Homo sapiens: one gene and its partners. The gene in region 2 interacts genetically with the main gene of each other region. Each region holds a gene or a part of one and is shown on either strand. Other genes may lie near its edges. The genes, in order: NF1, USP48 and NF2.

What was found.
Region 1: changes in USP48 (region 2) and NF1 together harm fitness more than expected from each alone (negative genetic interaction), as found in Homo sapiens cells (one large-scale study listed by BioGRID).
Region 3: changes in USP48 (region 2) and NF2 together harm fitness more than expected from each alone (negative genetic interaction), as found in Homo sapiens cells (one large-scale study listed by BioGRID).

Annotation. Positions count from the first base shown.
Region 1 is NC_000017.11:31,335,966-31,339,619, reverse strand, and holds part of NF1 (neurofibromin), read right to left. Parts: intron 3,288-3,654; coding exon 3,147-3,287; intron 2,986-3,146; coding exon 2,706-2,985; intron 2,253-2,705; coding exon 2,038-2,252; intron 1,802-2,037; coding exon 1,740-1,801; intron 1,596-1,739; coding exon 1,481-1,595; intron 917-1,480; coding exon 815-916; intron 1-814. UniProt on the Homo sapiens protein: Stimulates the GTPase activity of Ras. NF1 shows greater affinity for Ras GAP, but lower specific activity. May be a regulator of Ras activity.
Region 2 is NC_000001.11:21,703,023-21,706,676, forward strand, and holds part of USP48 (ubiquitin carboxyl-terminal hydrolase 48), read right to left. Parts: intron 3,568-3,654; coding exon 3,445-3,567; intron 3,166-3,444; coding exon 3,104-3,165; intron 2,816-3,103; coding exon 2,705-2,815; intron 1,371-2,704; coding exon 1,240-1,370; intron 597-1,239; coding exon 490-596; intron 1-489.
Region 3 is NC_000022.11:29,680,133-29,683,786, forward strand, and holds part of NF2 (merlin), read left to right. Parts: intron 1-1,306; coding exon 1,307-1,469; intron 1,470-2,887; coding exon of another isoform or gene 2,888-2,923; exon of another isoform or gene 2,924-3,654. UniProt on the Homo sapiens protein: Probable regulator of the Hippo/SWH (Sav/Wts/Hpo) signaling pathway, a signaling pathway that plays a pivotal role in tumor suppression by restricting proliferation and promoting apoptosis.

The DNA of each region.
Region 1 (3,654 bases), on a different chromosome or scaffold from region 2:
CACTTAGAAGATGGGGACCAGAGAACCATTTTGTATAATACAAAATTAGAATGCTTGTAGACAAACCAGGAATATAACAGGTATTATTTCTCTGTTATTTCTCCCAAGTCTGGCATACCTTTGTACTCAAATCACAGAATTAAACCACTTTAGAACTGGATGGTAATACCATGCCATTATCGAATCTTTTTCATTTTATTAATACAAAAACATGATTTCCAGATATCTTAAATATAAAAATGGGATAAGGTCAGACCATCCTAAAACAGTGGCCACTTCATTTTACTCCTTTTAAATATAATCTTCATTTGGCACCCAAACTCTTATGACGATCAAGTATACTTCTCCCAGCTTTAATTTCTCCATAGTAATAATCACTAACATACTACGTATTTTGTTTACTTCATTATCCATTCACTCCCCAACCTCCACACCCACCCCAGAAAGTAAGCTCCATGAAGGCAGTGAGTTTTATGGGCTTTGTTAGTACTCTATCTCTAGCGCCTAAAACAGTACTTGGCAATAGCAGATAATTAATAGTTATAAGATAAAATAATTAAGAATATATACCTATCTTTCCTTTAGCACTGATGAGACCAAAAACTTACAAGCGCTTGAGAACATACTATCCATACTTACTCTTCTTCTAATATGACTACTTCAAACAACTAAACTTTAAGAGGTTCTACTTTAACTATAGTTTTTTCTTTATAACTTATTCTCAATTCATCTTATTTTCTAAACTCTTTGAAAGAAAGTAACATTCAACACTGATACCCAAAATGAATGCACTCATTTTCTATACAGTAATTACCTTATTAAGAAGTGGCTGTAATTTGGTTAGTGCTATTACTGTAGCTTCTATCAGAACTTGACTGTTGTAAGTGTCAGGTCCTTTTAAGCAACTCTCAAGTGCCTTTTAGGAAAACAGAATTTTTTATTTTACTTTCATTGAAATAAAACATTAACTCCTAAACTGAATCTCGGAATGAATTCAGGAACATTTACTTATTTAATAAATGCTAGAATGATTTCTCATGCTATGGTGATCTTGGTAGCTAGCTTAATGTACATTTGTTTTCTTATTTTTTGACATTTCTACATTATAAGAGTCAGACATTATTATAGTAATTACAAATTAAATAATTTTATGCAAGGCTATAGTCTTACCATATAATTAAATGCTTTGAAAACTGGTAAAATACTAAGTGTACCTGCTTAGCAAAAGAGGCAACATATTTTATTTTAAAGACATCTTCCTTAATGAAGTAATCAGAGTTTACATATAAAGACAGCTTCTTTAGAGAAGACTTCTTCAAAGAATTACAATAAATAATCAAAATACATTTTAAAGGCTTAATAAGTAACATATAAGATATTTCATTGACCTCAAATTTAAACGTCTTTTAGAAAAATGAAAGATATGCTTTACAACTTGAGAACCATAAATATTTGGGAGAAGTGAGGGCGGAACAGGTACCTTGCTAAGAATACGGATTATCTGCTTTATCTGCCCATGAGACACTCGTTTGCTAATACACCCAAAGACAACAAGAGCTCTTGGTTGCAGGGATGGATTATATTGGAATGCAAATCTGCAATTAAAAGATCCACAGAACTTATAAAAACCTTTGTGTTTATATATACTAAATAATAAATTATAACATTGATCATACAGTAATAGCTGTATTTTCAACAATATGCATATTTTTACAACTTATATTTAATTTAGGACATACCTTTGAGCTAGTTCTGTCCACTGGTCCAGCCACTTGCACGTTGGAATATCTCTCATGCATGCCTAAAAAAGGGGATACTCTGAATACATATTGTACATAAATGTTTTTAGAACTGTTTAAATAATGTTTATTATGATGTCATTAAGTGACCTGTTACCAATAACACAGTCCATGCAAGTGTTTTTATTTAAGCATTAAGTACAAAATAGCACAATAAACCAATATTTCTTCTATATAGTATTAACATATTTTTAAAAAAAGATTTTAACTTAGTTTCTTATCATTTTGGCTTCTATACCTCCATGATCTCCAACAAAGCTTCTGTGACTGTTTCCAAGGATGTCAAAGCAAAAGTCTCTCTCTCATAGGAGCCAGGAGAGAATGACCTGTCCCGGTAACTGGAACGGAAGGCAATGACAGCAGCTGACTTGACTTTGCTAATGCCAAACAGCAAGTAAAATTTGGGTAATGAGAACTCTGTCAGACTGAGTCTCAAAACTTGCTTGGTCTCTTCTGTAAGAGAATAAAGGAACAAGTAAAGACAGAAAATATTACTTTTTAATTTCTAAAGTTCCATGTTTCATTTTGAATTTAGAAAATTTGAATACCATATAAAAATTACATAATCATGTTCCCTAAATCAAACCTCTAGATACATTGTATTAATGCTCCTTGCTTCATTTATCTACAAATTAGTGCTGGTAACTGAACATGGTCAACTGGCACTGAGTATTCCGCTTATGGGATAACTCTACATGACAAGTATGCATAGAAAATCTTTACTATAGCTTGATATGGAATGGAAGTAATTTATTTTCTTTTTGGTAATATTTCATGTCATTACTGGAGGCTTAAATTAGCAACTTGGTGTTAGAGCACAAACATAAATAAGATAATCTATATTGATCAGGTGAAGTAAAATGGAGAAAGGAACTGGTAAACACAAATTCCTTTCCTAGAACTTACCACTAAAATGAAGCTGTGAACAAGTACACAGAGAGTGAATGATATTAATGACCAGTCCATGTGTGGAAGCTCTAAGGGAGAGCGGACCTGTGGCTACTAAGAAAGTAACAACGTGGAAGAGGTAGGGAAGATGAGCTGCCACATCAAGGGAATTGTTGAAGGACAGCATCAGCATGTAGCGTGCTAAAATAGCAATATCATCCCACATAAGATGTTGTTCTAAAGTAGGAGTTGGAGATAAGCATGTCTTGTCAATTATTTTGCACATCCTTCCAATAACCTGTAAAGAAGCAGGATTTTTTTTTTTAAAAAAAAAAACATGGGACTCAAAGTTTTAGCACAAAAAAGTTCAGTTTAATTTAAAAGTAATTACAAAACAAAAAACCTCCTGATGATAAAACAGATATGCTATAGTACAGAAGGCAAAAGAAAAGTGATTACCTTGCTTGAAACCAATTTCACATTTCCAGAAGCCAAAGCTACAGCAGTATCTGCCATCACCTCAGCTTTTATTGATCCCAAGCCACCTGTTGCACTGGTTTTGATGAAACTGTCTAGTACAACATCAAGCAGATCTGTAATCTAGTTGAAGAAGGAAAATAACATGTTTTTAATCACTCTACCAATTTAATTTTTAATTAAAAAATATTCATTGGAACAGCCTAATCAATATGAAAATTCTATTTTACCTGAGGCCTCAAAAATACTAGATTTTATTTACAGGCCTGTCAGTAAATACAATTTATTATAAAATATCCAGTAAAGGATGAGTATATTCATTTGACTCCTTCAGAGATTAAGAGATTGGTATTCAAAAATTTTAAATCTCTATCAATACTATCTTCAGTCACTTGCAAAGTATCTCTATGCTTTTCTAAGACAGTAATGTAGCATCAATATAAAATAGTAATTTGAAAATACAGAGCTGGGTGCAGTGGCTCACGCTTGT
Region 2 (3,654 bases):
TTCCCAGGCTGCATCCCTGACAGTGAGGGCTTGGGTAAAAACAACTTCTCCAAGACGCCTCTCCTGTCTACTCCCTGTCTCACACTAACCTCCACTTGACCCTGCTAAAGTTCCTTCAAAACAATCATTTCTGTGTGAAATCATATGAATTTATACTTTATTCCTGATCTTCCTCACTAGGTGCCTATAATTTTGAGAGAAGGTATTATACCTGCCTTCTTTATCACTGTATCCCCAGCACCTGGACCATTCCTGGAACACAGCTGACATTCAGTAAATATCTATGCATCAATTAATAACAAACTAAATTCTCATATAATCACATAACTGTTCATTTTCAATTATTGTCCAATTTCAATTCTGATGCCAAACAGCTCTGAAGGAACAAAAATGCAGTCCTAGGCAGACCCTCAGTGCAAATACAACAGCAAATCAAGCCAAAGAGCACGCTTGATCATTACTAGTCATTGCCACAAGAGGGACCAGTACCTTTTTATTATCCACAACTTTATGGACATAGATGGTGGCTTGAGTGTATTCACGCAGGTCCCTCTGCTGCTGACACAATAAGCCTTCTCTGCATTCTGGACAGAGTTCTTTGGGGGAAAAAAAAAAAGGGAAAACAGAAGTGGCTGAGGAATCATTGTTAAAGAATCAAAGATCTAAAAACATATGTCAAAGTTACTAGTGAATATTCATTAAACTCTTAGTAACATTTTCTTTTTTTGAGACAAGGTTTTGCTGTGTCACCCAGGCTGGGGTACAGTGGTATGAACATAGCTCACTGTAGCCTCAAGCTTCTGGGCTCAAGCCATGCTCCTGACTCAGCCTCTCAGCGAGTAGCTCAAGACTACAGATATGTGCTACATTTTTATTATTTTGTAGAGAGAAGGTCTTGTTATGTTGCTCAGGCTGGTCTGAAACTCCTGGCCTTAAGCAATCCTTCCACCCTAGTCTCTCAAAGTATTAGGATTATAGGTATGAGCTAGTGTGCTGGCCCAAACTCTTAATAATATTTTCTATTAACCACTATATTCTATTACATGCAAATGATAAGGAAATCCATTTACTGTCCATAAATAAACGTACAAATAATGGGATGATTATAATGAGAGTTTCCACCTAGGGAGTTGGGACCGCCGCATGATCTTTAACTTTAAGCAGACAACACTGACACACCCTTTCTTCTTAAAATGTCAGCTCTTAACTATAGAAACCGAAAGCAATATGAAAACTTACTGGGCTCAGAAATATACTGTGTTTCTGAAGGGTTTACATCTCCCACTTCAATTCTCGTGATTTTAATTACATGATCCACAACAAAGAGCTTTTGTATCATTTGCCACTCACTGGGCCATATGAGAGCTATACTGTGCAAAAAAAAAACACAACATGCCTTAAGACACATGGAAATTAAGAGAATTAACATAATCCATTAGTCTGCTAAACCAAAACCATTAACACTAACATTTAATCCAAAGGAATTAGAGAGAAAAGATACGTATCATCAACAAAGAATAGTTTTTCATACAAAGGAATGTTACCACAGCAGCGAAACTAAATGGACTGAAATTACATGAATCAACATGGTTAGATCTCAAAAACATAATTGAGTAAAATAAGTTAGTTGCAGAAGTATAAATACAGTATGGTGCCATTTATATAAAAAGTTTTAAATATGCAAGACATTATGTGCGTGCATTTTTTTTTTTTACAGAATACTTTCTGAGACAGATAAACTCTAAATTCAGTACAGTGGTTAGTGTGAGAGGAAGGGTGGGAGAAAGAGAAGTAGCAACAGAAGGATAAGCACTGTGGGGCCTTTAATCATATTTGAACCATTTAACTTTTAAACTGAATGGTAACACACATTTGCTTACTGGTGTATTTTCCTGGAAGTCTGACATTTGCAATAACAACGACAGGAAGAAAGGGAGGGAGGAAAGAGAAGAGAGATGCACAGCGAGAGTGAGAGAGCAACAGGGAAGGCGGGATGCAGAGAGGGAGGGAGAGAAAGAGGAGGGAGAAAATGTAGAGAATATATAAACTTTGAACTCCCTTAAATGATGTTAAAGTACTGAAATATGAATAATAAAACTCTAGCTTAACCCCAAGGGCATTTTTATTTATGTGTTCCAATTTCCTTTTCCTGATTTTCTGACAATGTTGGAAGCATTCTACCTTCTCGTATATCACGATTTTTGGTAAAATCGGGAGAAATTCACAGATGAACACCTCTGGAAGTACTTGAAGCATGGAATAAAATTTGGGTTCTAAGACCCTAGAATTCCAGATGACCAGTGCAGTGGCTTTGCTCTGCCACCCTGCTAGCCTCCTCCTTTAATTGTCTGAAGCCTGGCCATGGCAGAACAAAACCTATAACCAAGACCATGTTGATTCTGTGATTCTGGAAAAGAGGTCTCAGCACTGGTCACCAGCAGCGGGGGAAGAGAAAGGGTGGCTGTGTTGTCTTCAAGAGGGACAAGGAAAGAGCAAAAAGACAAATAGCCTCGGGCAGCCTCTTGTCTTTCCTGGAGAAGCAGTCTTCTTCTCTTTTAAAAGGGGAAAAAAAAACCCCACAATTCAGCAAAGGACTAAATTCTTAAAACAGACTATGTCAGATGAGAAATTTCCTAAACATATTTTATTAATCATCAAAAAGAGAAAAGAAGAAAAAAAAATCACATGAAGAGAAGGAACTCACAGTTTAGAATCTTCTTTGGTCATGGAAGCAAATGTAAACATGAGGCCCCCGTGGGGACACAAAAGAGCACTGTTCCCAACTGATGACACAGGGCTGCATCTTGTAGGCTTTCTACTCAAATGAGACAAGGAGGAGAAATATACCTAATTACTGCATGACGAAAGAGAAGATTTTAAAATAATTATTTCAAAATCAGAGATATATTTAAGAAAATATTAGTAATTCAATGTGTTTCTTAGGCTTATTCATTTAATTAATAGAAAAGAAAGCTTTCAGTGTATGCTGGTGAAAGTAACCATGAAGGAAGGGTACAACAAACAGAATCCACGATATCTTAAAAAATACCAGAGTCAACCAAATCAGTAACAATAAAGGAAATAAAACATATTTTGTTTCTACCTAACAAATTTCCGCCACTCTTCTACAAAGAACTGAGACACGATGTAGAGGACATCCGTATCCTAGAACACAAAAATCACAAAACAGTATCCGTCAATTCACCGCCTGCTTAACACAAATTCCTTATAATATACTTTGGTTGTCCTTATTCAAGTTTTATAAATAAAATGAAAACACAGTCCTCTACCAAAAAATAGCAGGCTGGAGTAAATCCCCTGGTTAGATAACTAAACAAATGAGAATATGAGAAGTTCTGGGTTGTTCTGAAATAGCTCACTGGGAATTTGGCAAGGGCTTTAAAAAGAAAAGATGCATTCTTTCTTTTGTGGGAATCATTATACCTCTGGCCAGTTACTGAGACACGGTCTGTTTTTATCCTGGAACAAATTTGGGAGAGAAGTCTTTTGCTCGTTTGCAATCATCTTATGTAAGGCTTCATTTTCTTCCCCTTCTCTTTCTAAAATCTGAAAGAGAATGAAGCAATCAACTGTCTCCTGCTGACAGCACATGACCTGCCTCCTCCCTACACCCCCGTCAGAAGTACAGTGTTA
Region 3 (3,654 bases), on a different chromosome or scaffold from region 2:
ATGGAGTCTCACTCCATCGCCCAGGCTGGAGTGCAGTGGTGCGATCTCGGCTCACTGTAACCTCCACCTCCTGGGTGCAAGCGATTCTCCTGCCTCAGCCTCCTGAGTAGCTGGGATTACAGGCGCATGCTATCACGCCCAGCTAACTTTTGTATTTTTAGTAGAGATGGGGTTTCACCATGTTGGTCAGGCTGGTCTCGAACTCCTGACCTCATGATCCGCCCACCTTGGCCTCCCAAAGTGTTGGGATTACAGGCGTGAGCCACCACACCCAGCCGGTGATTAGGTTTCCACATATGAATTTTGAAGACACGAACATTCAGACCATAGCACTTCTTACCCTTGCACATATTGGCAGAGTCTCTATACTAACCATGGCAATCCCTATGGAGTGTTTTTGGTATTTGTATTGCATGGTTTTTCTGGCCATGCCTTGTAGTTGGACACTTTGTGGGTGGTTTCCAGATTTTCACCATCATAGATGCTGTCACTCAGTGTTATCTGTTCTCAGGTGAGGGTGGGGATCTTTTCTTCCTTGCGTTGGGTGAGCTTCTGAGTGAGCTTCTGTCATCTTTAGATGAAGTCTCAGAACAAGTGGGAATGTGGATGTGGCCTATCAAAAGAGATCACGTGAAGCTGGGCGCTGTGGCTTATGCCTATAATCCCAGCCCTTTGAGACCAGGGGTTCAAAGCCAGCCTGGGCAGCATAGCAAGATCCTATAAAAAAAAAAAAGAGTTTACTTGAATTACTGCTCCAAGAAGGGTTGAGACAAGGAGATTGTTCTGGGTTCCCAGGAAGCTTGTTTCACGTATGTTTTTTTTTTGTACAGAACGAAAAGCTGTCCATGAGAGCTGGTATTTGTAGAGCCCCCTATGAGAATTTACCAAGGGCTTTTCTACTCTTTCTTTTTCTTTCCTTTTCTTTTTTTTTTTTTAAAAATAGAGACAGGGTCTTGCTATGTTTCCCAAGCTGGTCTCCAACTCCTGGGCTCAAGCAATCCTCCTGCCTCAGCCACCCAAAGTACTGGGATTACAGGTGGAGCCACCGTGCCTGGCCTCCTACACTGTTTTATTTAATCCTAACCACGGCCCTGTGATCATTATCCCAATTTTAATGATGAGGAAACATTCATAGCATTTAAGTGACCAGCCCAAGCTCCCATGGCCTGTGAGTGGCCAAGTAGAGACGTGAACCCCAGGCCTCAAACCCTAGATCGCACACCAAGCAGCTTGTGGGCCGCAGAGCACCTGAGCCGTGTCTCACTGTCTGCCCAAGCCCTGATGCATGATACCCTCTTGCCGGCAGAGTGGAATACATGGAAAAGAGCAAGCATCTGCAGGAGCAGCTCAATGAACTCAAGACAGAAATCGAGGCCTTGAAACTGAAAGAGAGGGAGACAGCTCTGGATATTCTGCACAATGAGAACTCCGACAGGGGTGGCAGCAGCAAGCACAATACCATTAAAAAGGTACCCAGGGTCTCTTTCTTGTATTTTGCTGATCAGGACCATCATTAATGAAATGTGCGGTTGGCATCTGGTTTCCTCAGTAGCCAAGTCACTAGACTATTGGCATCTTTTGTATGTACTTAGTTGAGGAAATTTTTTAACTTATGCCAGAAAGGGAATTTAATCTGCCAATGACTATGAACCCATTGGCTGGATGGAAGTTGAGCTTGTGTTAAAAGCTCTGATGTAATGAACCCCTGTTACAGGGTGGATTTTGAGCCCTCATTTAGCAGTAAAGCATAATGCCCTTTTAAGCCAAGGGGTGTTATACCCAGGGAGCTGCCTTACTTTATGAGAAAGCAGAATGAAATGGAGGCTATTGAGAATGGACTTTCCCTCTAGTCTTGTGGTGTCTTTAAGTGGCAAGGACTATAAAACCAAACTGAATTTTTAACTTTTTTCATACTTAAAAGGAAGTGTCTAGGAAAGAACCTCTTTGTTTTAAAAGAGAAGACTTTATTACTTTGCAAATGGTTTCATATCTTTCTCTACTGGTATTTTGAGCTTTCAGCATTGTCGAGATTCAGAAGCTAAATTCCATACTAATTATCAGCCCAAGAGCATACCTCTCTCATTTGGGCCAAGCAGAAGGGTCCTCTCATACCAAATAATGCTCTGCTCTTAACTGATAGCCCAGGACCAGGTTAACACCTATAAAATAGGTGTTATTAAGATAAGACTGTCCATTGAGTTTAGGTGATACTGATACAGTTAATTTTTTATTCTTTACCTCAGTCTTTAAAATAGGCTTCCAGTTTTATGGACTGTCTCTGTTTTTAGTGGTTAAGCTGTATCTGAAAACTCCAGGGGATCTGTTTCTGCCTGCCTTCGTTGTTGGGTACAGTAGGCAGCCCTGACTTCTACCTCTCGACTCCAGTCACAACTGGCACCGGGTAGAGAATTCCTTTTAATAGTGCAACCTAGAAGGAAAGGCATTTCCACATTCCACATTCTTCTTTCCTCTGGCTTCTGTAATTTACTGGGCTTCCCTTCCAAAACAAAATTATTAAACAGTAAAGGGGAGTTCAAGGGAGGCCTCGGTCATTAAGGAAAGAGGTAAAACGATGGCTGAGCCAGTGAGCCAGTCAGCCCTTAAATGAACTGCCTCAGACACCCCATCTCACCCCTTACCCCCAGCCTTGTCATCTGGGTCCCAGGAACAGTCTCACCATTTCCACTGCTGCTGCAATGAGCAGTGCCCTCAGCCACAGAAACCTGCAGTGTGAGAGCTGGAGAGACCCCGTTCCAAGCCATTAAAACAAACAAAATCACTCATCACGATTTCAGGCCTATCCAAGCATTTTGCAGATGGCACTTATGGCATTGTTGATATCACAGGGTATGTTTTTGTTTTTCTTCATTTTATTTTGCTGGTTTAGCCTCAAGCCCAAGGCAGAAGACCTATCTGCATTTGAGCCCTCAAAGTAGGTTGTTCCCAGGTACTCTCTATGTGGTGATGGTGCTGCCCTCTGTGATACTAACCCGTGCATGAGCTTGCCTGTCTCTGTCCTCGGGCCACACTGAGCCCTTACGAGGGCAGGTGGTGCCTGGGTACTGGCCGCAGCATGCTTTGAGTCTAAAAGTAGGCACCCACCCTGTGAAGCCAGACCAGCCTCCAGGGCCCCAGAAGACTGCCTCGTTCCGAAGAGCATGTCATGGGGCTGTAGGACCAGCCATTCTTCCCATCTCGGGTCATTGTTGGGCTGGGGAAGGTTATGGCTTCTTGTCCAGTCAGGTGTGTCTAAAAGTCCTTTGTCTTGGTGGCATACTCCTAGCATGGAAATGGGGTCAATCTGGGCACTTTGGAGACTGGTGTGTTTAACTCAAGATCAAGACCTTTTATGCGTTGACAGCCTCTCAAGACCCATGGTCACACCTGGCAGCTTCTGGTAGTGGGGCAAAAGGGTTGCTTGTGCTGGCTCATTTTCCTTTAGAGCTTTCCCTTTCTGCACACATCCCTTTTCTTTTCAAATAAAGCAAACCCAGAGCACAGGGTCTGATATGTGAGTCCACGGGGAGTGGACTGTCTGTTCATCTGTGCTCAGCCACCTCTGCTTCAGCTTCCTCTCCATAGGCTGAGCAGAGATGTGGTCAGAGTGAACTCACATTGGAACAGTACACTCACGGCACCCTGGAGAGGAGCGGT